Linked DNA regions of Homo sapiens. The protein of the gene in region 2 interacts with the protein of the main gene of each other region in a pairwise test. Each region holds a gene or a part of one and is shown on either strand. Other genes may lie near its edges.

Region 1 (3,500 bases), on a different chromosome or scaffold from region 2:
TCCTTTGAAGTAAACAAAACAGCCATTCCAAAGCCAGTGTTTCAGGATCTACTGATAGAAGTGGTTCAAAGGTTTTTTGGTTTTTTGAGACAGGATCTTGCTCTGTCACCCAGGCTGAAGTGCAGTGCCACAAACACTGCTCATTTCAGCCTTGACCTTCTGGGCTCAAGCAGTCCTGCCATCTCAGCTTTCCTTGTAGCTGGTACCACAGGCATGCATCACCATGCCTGGCTAATTTTAGACAGAGTCTTATTCTGTTACCCTCGCTGGAGTGCAGTTGTGTGATACAGCTCACTGCAGTTGTGGCCTCCTGGGCTCAAGCAATCCTCCCACTTCAGCCTCCCAAGTAGCTGGGACTACAGATACATGCCACCACACCCAGCTAATTTTTGTATTTTTGTAGAGACGGGGTTTTGCATGTTGCCCAAGCTGGTCTCACACTCCTGAGCTCAAGTGATCCACCTGCCTCAGCCTCCCAAAGTACTGGGATTATAGGTGTGAGCCACTGTACCTGGTCTCCTGGCTAATTAAAAAAAAAAACAAAAAAAAACTTTTGTAGAGATGGTGTCTCACTTTGTTGTCCAGGCTCAAAGGTTTTTTTTTTAAAGAAGTAGTGCTCATCTAATCTTTATAGATTTGTAAACACAAGCTAGTTTTATAACTCTTAGTTTAGAAGGCCATGTTAAGAAAAAGGAAACTGTGCTGGGCGCGGTGGCCCATGCCTATAATCCCAGCACTTTGGGAGGCCGAAGTGGGAGGATCACTTGAGCCCAGGAGTTCAAGAGCAACTTGGGCAACATGGCAAGAACCCATGTCTACAAAAATAAAAAATAAAAAAATTAGCAGTGTGTGGGCTGGGCATGGTGGCTCATGCCTATAATCCCAGCACTTTGGGAGGCTGAGGCAGGTGAATCACCTGAGGTCTGGAGTTTGAGACCAGCCTGGCCAACATAGTGAAACCCTGTCTCTACTAAAAATACAAAAAATCAGCTGGGCGTGGTGGCGGGCGCCTGTAATTCCAGCTACTCAGGAGGCTGAGGCAGGAGAACTGCTTGAACCCAGGAGGCAGAGGTTGCAGTGAGCCAAGATCGTGCCATTGCACTCCAGCCTGGGCAACAAAAGCAAAACTCTGCTTCAAAAAAAAAAAAAAAAAATTAGCAGTGTGTGGTGGCAGGTGGCAGTAGTCCCCAGCTACTCAGGAGGCTGAGGCAGGAGGATCACTTGAGCCTAGGAGGTTGAGGCTGCAGTGAGCCATGTTCACACCACTGCACACCATCTTGGGTGACAGCAAGAAACCCAAGTTTCAAAAAAAAAAATTGTTCCAGAAGCTTGGGTTTAATAGATAGTCCCCTCCTGTGATAGCAAGTCATAATTGATACTTAGTTCTTGAATTCTCAGCCTTTTAGTGAAGTTCTGGGGAAGTTAGCTCTTCTTTTACTGTGACTTTTAATATCTTATACAGATATGATTAATTTGCACAGAATTGAATTTCAGAGCTTCAAGAGATTGTTAACCAGCAATTTAAAAAACCCTTATGAGATTAATTTTTTCTGTATACACAATTAACTTAAGCATAGTTGTTCTCATGAAGCAAAACAGAGTAGAAAATATTATTAAAATGTATGTGAAGAAAAAGTGTTACCTTGATGCAAAAACTTAAATCAGTGACCTACTCTGTTGTATATTTTCATGGGCTACTATCTGTATGCATTATTAGTTTTCCCTACCTGTTATCTTTTGACACCTGTGTTTCATAAGCTGTTGGAAATATAATGTATACATGTTTATTTTAAATGAGTTCAGTATAAAGTTACTTTGCACCATTTGTGCCTGTTTACTTTTGCTTTGACATAGATACATCGAGATATTTCCAAGCAGAAGGAATGAAGTTCGAACACATGTCGGTTCTTATAAGGGAAAGAAAATCGCATCTTTTCCTACTGCTAAGTATATAACTGAGCCAGAAATGGTCTTTGAAGAACATGAAGTAAATGAGGATATTCAACCCATGACAGCTTTTGAAAGTGAGAAGGAAATAGGTAAGGTCCTGCCTCTTCTTGAGACTCATTGGGTCTATCTTGAATGTTTTGGGTTTTGTGATTTTTTTTTTTTTGAGATGAAGTCTCGCTCTGTTGCCAGGCTGGAGTGCAGTGGTGCGATCTCGGCTGACTGCAGCCTCTACCTCCTGGGTTCAAGTGATTCTCCTGCCTCAGCCTCTTTGAGTAGCTGGGACTACAGGCGCATGCCGCCACGCGCAGCCAATTTTTATATTTTTAGTAGAGATAGGGTTTCGCCACGTTGGCCAGGCTGGTCTGGAACTCTTGACCTCAAGTGAGCCGCAGCCTCCTAAAGTGCTGGGATTACAGGTGTGAGCCAACACACCCGGCCTAAAGATTTAATAGGACTTTACATACTTTGAGTATATGCAGAAAGGCTTAATTATTTTGCTAGGTTTTTAATTTAATCATTTTTATTAACTATATCAAAAGCTGGGTAGTAAAAATGTGATAAAAGGAAGTAAGATGTCAACATTTAAATTAAGATGGGGGAAGATTTGGATAATGAGCAGGAATATTGACTGAAGTAAGGATTTTTTTTTTTTTGAGACAGAGTTTCACTCTGTTGCCCAGGCTGGAGTGCAGTGGCGCACTCTCGGCTCACTGCAGGTTCCGCCTCCCAGGTTCACGCCATCATCCTGCCTCAGCCTCCCGAGTAGCTGGGACTACAGGCGCCTGCCACCGTGCCCGGCTAATTTTTATATTTTTAGTAGAGACGGGGTTTCCCCGTGTTGGCCAGGCTGGCGTTGAACTACTGACCTCAGGTGATCTGCCGGCCTCTGCTTCCCAAAGTGCTGGGATTACAGGCATGAGCCACTGTGCCCGCCTGAAGTAAGGATTTTTGTTTGCTTCTGGATTTAATTATTTCTTTGATTCCTAACCCAGGGCAACATTTGGAATCTTTTAAGTTTCATAAATACTTTTTAAACTGGTACCCTGGGATTATCTTGTCACTATATATATGTGTATATATATTTTTGTTTTTTGAGACAAAGTCTTGTTCTGTGGCCCATTCTGGAGTGCAGTGGCACAATCATGGCTCACTGCAACCTTGAACTCCTGGGCTCAGGCAGTTCTTCCACCCCAGCCTCCTGAGTAGCTGGAACTATAGGCATGCATCACCATGCCCAGCTAACTTATTTTTATTTTTATTTTTTGTAGAGACAGTGTCTGGCTGTGTTGCCCAGGCTGGTCTCGAACTCCTGGGCTCAAGTGATTCTCCTGCTTCAGCCTTCCAAAGTGTTGGGATTACAAGTGTGAGCTACCACGCCCAGCCTTTGTTCTTTTTTTTTTTTTTCAGTGCCTATAATCTAGAAAGTCTCTTTTAGGGTTTAATTCATAATCATTTTACCTGCTCTCTGATGTTACAAAAAGGGCTAAGTTCTTAAACTGGTAATGGTCTGAGGCATTCAGTGCTTATGGGTGTTCAGGTGATATTTGTTG
Region 2 (3,500 bases):
CCGGAAGGAGTGGAAGCGTTTGGAACCTGCTCAGAGGGACCTCTATAGAGATGTGATGCTGGAGAATTACGGGAATGTGTTCTCACTGGGTAAGGAGTTATGCCTTGTCAACAAAACTCGCTGGTGTTTCTTTGCTTCTTCGTTTGCTAGTAACAATCTAGTCACTGAAAAGAGCTGTTTCAGCAGATTTTTTTTTTGAGGTGCAATGGCACAATCTTTGCTCAGTGCAACATCCATCTCCCAGATTCAAGTGTTCCCAGGTTCTCACCTCTGCCTCCCAAGTAGCTGGGACTACAGGCACGCACCACCACACCAGGCTAATTTTTGTATTTGTTTTGTTTTTTTTTGTTTTAGTAGAGACGGGGTTTCACCATGTTGGCCAGGCTGGTCTCAAACTCCTGACCTCAAGTGATCCACCCGTCTTGGCCTCCCAAAGTGCTGGGATTATAGGCATGAGCCACTGCACCTGGCCTAGGTAAGGATTGACTTAGTCTTAGGAAACTGTAAGAACAATAATCTTAACTCATTTATACAGCAGTCTGCAACTTATAAAGAGTTCTCATATATATTCTTTCATTTAATCTTCACAGTAACACATTAATTGAGGCAGCTAGTATTATTCCTCATTTTACAGGTAAGGAAAGTGAAAGTAGTCCAGGCGAGGTGGCTCACACCTGTAATCCCAACACTCTGAGAAGCTGAGGCAGGAGGATCACTTGAGGTCAAGAGTTCAAGACCAGCTTGGGCAACATGGCGAGACCCTGTCTCTACCAAATATCCAAAAAATTAGCCAGGCATGGTGGCACATGCCTGTAGTCCCAGCTACTTGGGAGGCTGAGGTTGGAGGATCACTTGAGCCTGGGAAGCCGAGGTTGCAGTGAGCCGAGATGGCATTACTGCAGTCCAGCCTGGGTGACACAGACCCTGTCTCAAAAAATAAATAAGTAAATAAAGTGGAGGTGAGAGTAGCGGTCTCAATGTCTTGTGCATGCATGGTCATCAGTTGGGCTGATGAGTGGCAAAACTTGGGGCCCAGTCTTTAACTCCAAATCTGGTACCTTTTTTTTTTGAGATGGAGTTTCACTCTTGTTGCCAGGCTGGAGTGCAATAGCGTGGTCTCGGCTCACCGCAACCTCTGCGTCCTGCGTTCAAGCAATTCTCCTGCCACAGCCTCCTGAGTAGCTGTGATGATAGGCATGCGTCACCACACCCAGCTAATTTTGTATTTTTAGTAGAGACGGAGTTTTTCCATGTTGGTCAGGCTGGTCTCGAACTCCTGACCTCAGGTGATCCACCTGCCTCGGCCTCCCAAAGTGCTGAGATTACAGGCATGAGCCACCGCGCCTGGCCAAATCTGATACTTTTTCCGTGTTATTCTCAGGACTTAATATATAATCCAGAGACTTTTCCGAAGGATTATCCCTGAACACATGAGGTGCTGCTCTTTGCCCACGTCTCTGTCCTCTCCTTCTCTGCTTCTCTGCTCCCCTTCTCTAACTTCTAGGGACCTGTTGCTTTGTTCAGGACCTAGTGCCCCTGCTGCTCTGTAGAAACTTAGAAAGGTTAAGAAATTAGGCCAGGCGCGGTGGCTCATGCCTGTAATCCCAGCACTTTGGGAGACTGAGGCGGGCAGATACTGAGGTCAGGAGTTTGAGACCAGCCTGGCCAACATGTTGAAACGCCATCTCTACTAAAAATACAAAAAAAATTAGCTGGGGGTGGTGGCATGTGCCTGTAATCCCAGCTACTTGGGAGGCTGAGGCAGGAGAATTGCTTGAACCTGGGAGGTGGAGGTTGCAGTTAGCCAAGAACACGCCACTGCACTCCATCCTGGGCGATAGAGTGAGACCTTGTCTCAAAAACAAAAACAAAAAAAGAAAGATTAATAAATTAGTTTCTCAACTTTTAGGATGTAGAATTCCTTGTCTCTCACCCCACTCTTAGTGGGCATTTTCCTGAGCAGAGCCAGGACGTCTTCCTAACTCTCATTTGAGACCTTCCTGTACATTTCCCTTCTGTCCCCGGCAGATCTGGGGTCTGGAATTGAGCTCTGGGACTCTCAGGGTGAGCAGATAAACCTCCTTGTCCCATGTCTCTCCCCATGAGCAGAATTCCCATTTCTGAATCCTGCCACCATCTCTCTGCTAGAATGAGAGGAAGAGCCAAGGGGCCTGGGTTTCAAAGGAACTGAGAGCAGAGAGGTCCTAAGAGGTACCTCTTCAGGTGAAGGAGAAACAGCCGTTCCCGTCCCTAACACACATTACCCTGTCTTTACTTTTTAAAATATCAATTAAGCTAAAAACGCAAACTCTCTGGACCCTTTACATTTATCCTCTGTGCCCAGAGTTGGCTTTAGAAACTCAAAAGGAGTGAAAACAGAGACGTCAGACACTGAGATTCTTTGCATAGCCTTACGTGCGAGCATAGCCTTTTATGCATAGGGCCCAGAGGCGGACTCAGTTGTCTTGCCGTTTCCATGGGCTTGGCATTTGTGGCGTGACGACAGCCATGATTGCTCTTCTTATGGGGCCATGGCAGCCACTAGCATCCTCCCCCTTGCTTGTTCCCGCGCTGCTGCTGTCTCTCCTCACCCTTCCCCCCTTTTCTCACCAACTGTCCTGTACTTGCTCTCCCTTCTTGCAGTCACTGTGTCCCCAGTTATATCCACTGCCCTGACCTCTCTAAAGGCTTTGTCACTTCATTAAGCAATATGACCTTCCTCTTCTAAAGTTGGTTCCCTGCCTCTCTGCCTGATCCGTCCTCCCCTCCACACACACTCAGCTTTCTTTCCACTTCCAGCTCTGTTCTCCTTGGTTTTGCTCTGCCCTGCCCCTTCCCTGTCTCCTTAGCCCGGCTGTCTCATTTTGCCTTAGCCGCACACATGTGGGGCAGGCCTCTTTGTAGGCATGTGCTTTTGGCACTGTAAGTATTCGTTACAATGATCCTGTCCTGTGATTTTCACTCTTTCTTCCCTAAGGAACAAGTGACATTTGCATTTTTTATTGTGTCAGATCGTGAGACCAGGACTGAAAATGATCAAGAAATTTCTGAAGACACAAGATCACATGGGGTCCTACTGGGAAGATTTCAAAAGGATATTTCTCAGGGTCTCAAGTTTAAAGAAGCCTATGAACGAGAAGTCAGTCTGAAAAGGCCGCTGGGGAACTCCCCTGGAGAAAGACTGAACAGGAAAATGCCAGATTTTGGTCAAGTGACAGTTGAGGAGAAGCTAACCCCCAGGGGAGAGAGAAGCGAGAAATATAATGATTTTGGGAACAGCTTCACTGTGAATTCCAACCTTATCTCACATCAGAGACTCCCCGTGGGAGACAGACCCCATAAGTGTGATGAATGTAGCAAGAGCTTTAATCGAACTTCAGACCTTATTCAACATCAGAGAATCCACACTGGGGAAAAGCCCTATGAATGTAATGAGTGTGGGAAGGCCTTCAGCCAGAGCTCACACCTTATTCAGCATCAGAGAATCCACACTGGGGAAA
Region 3 (3,500 bases), on a different chromosome or scaffold from region 2:
CCTGTGGCCACCCCACCTGTTCCCAAGATGCCACCAAGCCGCCCTTACCTGTAGATCGGGGTTGTGTAGTAATTGCCCACCTTCTTCTTTTCTGCATTGTAACGAACACCTGGAAGGGGGTCAGGCGGGGGTGGTAATTTCATTGCCATCTGAATTTTGCAGATGGGTAAAATGAGGTACAAAGAGGCTCACTGTCACTTGCTGAGGGTTCCCCAACTAGGAGGAGTTAGAGACGGGATTGGAAGCCAGAGCCTGGCTTCCTAATCCCTCTGCAAAGGGGCTTCCATGGCCAGCCAGTCACTCGGGTGCCCGTCTCCTCCCTCATTCCTGATCAGGACCCTCCCACCCCCACCCCGGCGGCATCCAGCAGTTAGGGGGTCTGATGTTTGCAGGACTGAATGGAGGGTGGGCAGAGGCTCACCCATGCCGATGTGGTTCTTGCAGCCATCGCACCAGATGTTATATGGCATTTCGAATCTGCAAAGACAGACAGCATCTTACTTGCACTTGTCCACTTGGACACTCCCTGGGTCTCCACACCTGCGACTCTGGCCGCGGTTGTGATTTGAGGGGTGGGGTATTAGACTGCCCTGTTAACGGGAGTTGCTGCACTCACATTACACAGGAAATGGATATATGGAAGAAAAAGAATCACAACCATTGTAACTGAGCAGGAACTTCCTGCCTGCTAGAAAGCAGACTGACCAGGTCCAGGGACAGCCGCCTTTGGGTGCTGCTGCGACTTTTTTTTTTTGAGACAGAGTCTTGCTCTGTTCCCCATGCTAGAGTGCAGTGGTGCGATCCTGGCTCACTGCAACCTCTGCCTCCTGGGTTCAAGCAATTCTTATGCCTCAGCCTCCCAAGTAGCTGGGATTATAGGTGTGCGCCACCAATTCCGGCGAATTTTTTTTTTTTTTTTGAGATGGAGTCTCGCTCTGTTGCCAGGCTGCAGTACAGTGGCATGGTCTTGGCTCACTGCAACCTCCAGCTCCCTAGTTCAAGTGATTCTCCTGCCTCAGCCTCCCGAGGAGCTGGGATTACAGGTGTGAGCCACCGCACCCAGCCTAATTTTTTCTATTTTCAGTAGAGACAGGGTTTCACTGTGTTGGCCAGGCTGCTCTCGAACTCTTGGTCTCAAGTGATCCACCTGCCTCACCCTCCCAAAGTGCTGGGTTTACAGGCGTGACCCACTGTGCCCAACTACGATCACTGTCTTTTTTGAGAGTCCTATGTGATCAAGTCCAGGCTGGCCTGCTACAGGTTGAGATACAACACGGAGCAGAGCCCAGCTGTACAGGTCAAGTCCCTGCTAAACCAGCCAGTCCCCAGCCAGCCAACTCTGAAACACATGGGAGCCCAGCCCAGATCAGGCCAGCCTAGCCCAGCCCAGCCAAGCTCTTCCAAGCCCAGCAGAGATATTTTGCTGAGCTGCAGACATGTGAGCAATAATAAATGCTTATTGTTTTGTCACACGGCAATAACTGACTGATACGGTGACTTTCTGCTTTATGGAATGAAGACCCTGCAGCACTGGGCCAATGAGGGCACTGAACTCTCCTTGAGACTGAAGGAATGGGGCAGGACGGTGGGGTCCTCAGGTGATGCTGGGCCTTACCGGATGATGAGGATGCCCTGTGACAGCTTCCGAGCCCGCTCCCGAAGCGGGTGGCTGTTGTGGTATCGGTTGAGAGAGCCATGCTGTGTGGAGAGGATGAGGAGCGGATTAGTGCTGCTGAGCTGGAGGAGCTCACAATTTTCTGCCACCCCCACTGCTTTGGGACAAGTGTCTCACAGGTGGGAGAGGCCTTGATTCTTATGTCCTGCAGGACGGGTGTTCATAGCAATAGGGGGCATCCAGGTCTTACTGGAACATGTAGGCTTGGAACCAGGAACGTGAGTTTGAATAGTCCCTCTCTTATTTATTTATTTATTTTTTGAGATGGAGTTTTGCTCTTGTTGCCCAGGCTGGAGTGCAATGGCATGACCTTGGCTCACTGCAACCTCTGCCTCCCGGGTTCAAGTGATTCTCCTGCCTCAGGCTCCTAAGTAGCTGGGATTACAGGCGCCTGCCACCACGCCCGGCTATTTTTTTTGTATTTGTAGTAAAGACGGGGTTTCACCATGTCACCCAGGCTGGTCTCCAACTCCTGACCTCAGGTGATCCACTTGCCTCGGCCTCCCAAAGTGCTGGGATTCCGGGTGTGAGCTACTGCGCCCAGCCCTGTTCCCATTTATGAGCTGAAAGAGCCAGGGGACCCTGGGCGAGTGACCTCACGTTTTGCCTTCCCGAGCCTCTGTTTCCCTTGTCTGTCAACTACGTATAATGGTCATTATTACTTCCAGGTTTTATGGGGAAGATGAGGTGAGGTGACAAGACTGGCAAACATTCGCTGGGGACTTCATGTGCATCACCTTATTTTTTTTTTTTTTTTTTTGAGACAGAGTCTCGCTCTGTCACTAGGCTGGAGTGCAGTGGCGTGATCTCGGCTCACTGCAACCTCCGCCTTCCGGGTTCAAGCGATTCTCCTGTCTCAGTCTCCCAAGTAGCTGGGACTACAGGTGTGGGCCACTACGCCCAGCTAATTTTTGTATTTTTAGTAGAGATCAAGTTTCACCATGTTGGCCAGGATGGTCTTAAACTCTCGACCTGGTGATCCACCTGCCTTGGCCTCCCAAAGTGCTGGGATTAGAGGCGTGAGCCATGGCGCCGGCTTTTTTTTTTTTTTTTTTTGAGGCAGGGTCTGGCTCTGTAGCCCAGGCTGGGGTGCAGTGGTATGATTATGACTCACTGCAGTCTCCACCTCCTGGGCTCAAGCAATCCTCCCACCTCAGCCTCCTGAGTAGCTAGGATTTATCCCTCAATGATTCTGTGAGGTCAGCTCATTTTATTTCCCCCTTCTGACGTATGGAGAAACTTTGGCATAGAGAGGCTAAATCCTATACTCAGGACGAGGCAGCTGGGACACTTGGGCCCTTACTGAGCACCTACTGTGTGGGGACACAGCCACAATAAGATAGATGAACATCTCTGCCTTCAGGGAGAGAATGTTCTAGCGGGGGAGATGGACAAGACGCAAATAAATGAATAAGTGAGGGAGTTATAAGGGCTATGAGATTATATAAAGTGCTCAGCAATGCAACAGAGAACGAGACAGTGGTCAGGGAGGACCTCTGTGAGAAAAGCACTTAAGGAAGTGAGAGTATGGTGAAATGGAGGAAGAGATTCCAGGCAGAGGGGACAACCAGGACGCCACAGGTGCTGGAGCTGGGGAAGCCATGGGATCTGACCCTTCATCTGTGCGCTCTGCCTTATCCTGGGCCCCTGCTGTAAACACACTATACTCTAGTATAGTGTGGACATGGAGTTACAGGTCCCTGAGGAGAGCCACAGTTATCACCCAAAAGTGAAGACAGCCTCGAGACTCAGGTGACATGCAGAAGACAAAAAGACCTTGGGGGCCACCCATCCTTCCGCAGCAGTGGCTCTAACCCCAAGAGGG

The links. Proteins that work in one complex are often made in the same cells at the same time.
Region 1: the proteins of ZNF3 (region 2) and GRSF1 interact in a two-hybrid assay, tested with the Homo sapiens proteins (one study listed by BioGRID).
Region 3: the proteins of ZNF3 (region 2) and YJU2B interact in binary tests that used the Homo sapiens proteins (3 or more experiments, as listed by UniProt).

The regions. Positions count from the first base shown.
Region 1 is NC_000004.12:70,826,391-70,829,890, reverse strand, and holds part of GRSF1 (G-rich sequence factor 1), read left to right. Parts: intron 1-1,854; coding exon 1,855-2,039; intron 2,040-3,500. UniProt on the Homo sapiens protein: Regulator of post-transcriptional mitochondrial gene expression, required for assembly of the mitochondrial ribosome and for recruitment of mRNA and lncRNA. Binds RNAs containing the 14 base G-rich element.
Region 2 is NC_000007.14:100,071,724-100,075,223, reverse strand, and holds part of ZNF3 (zinc finger protein 3), read left to right. Parts: coding exon 1-89; intron 90-3,011; coding exon 3,012-3,500. UniProt on the Homo sapiens protein: Involved in cell differentiation and/or proliferation.
Region 3 is NC_000019.10:13,754,395-13,757,894, reverse strand, and holds part of YJU2B (probable splicing factor YJU2B), read right to left. Parts: intron 1,699-3,500; coding exon 1,616-1,698; intron 478-1,615; coding exon 422-477; intron 110-421; coding exon 49-109; intron 1-48. UniProt on the Homo sapiens protein: May be involved in mRNA splicing.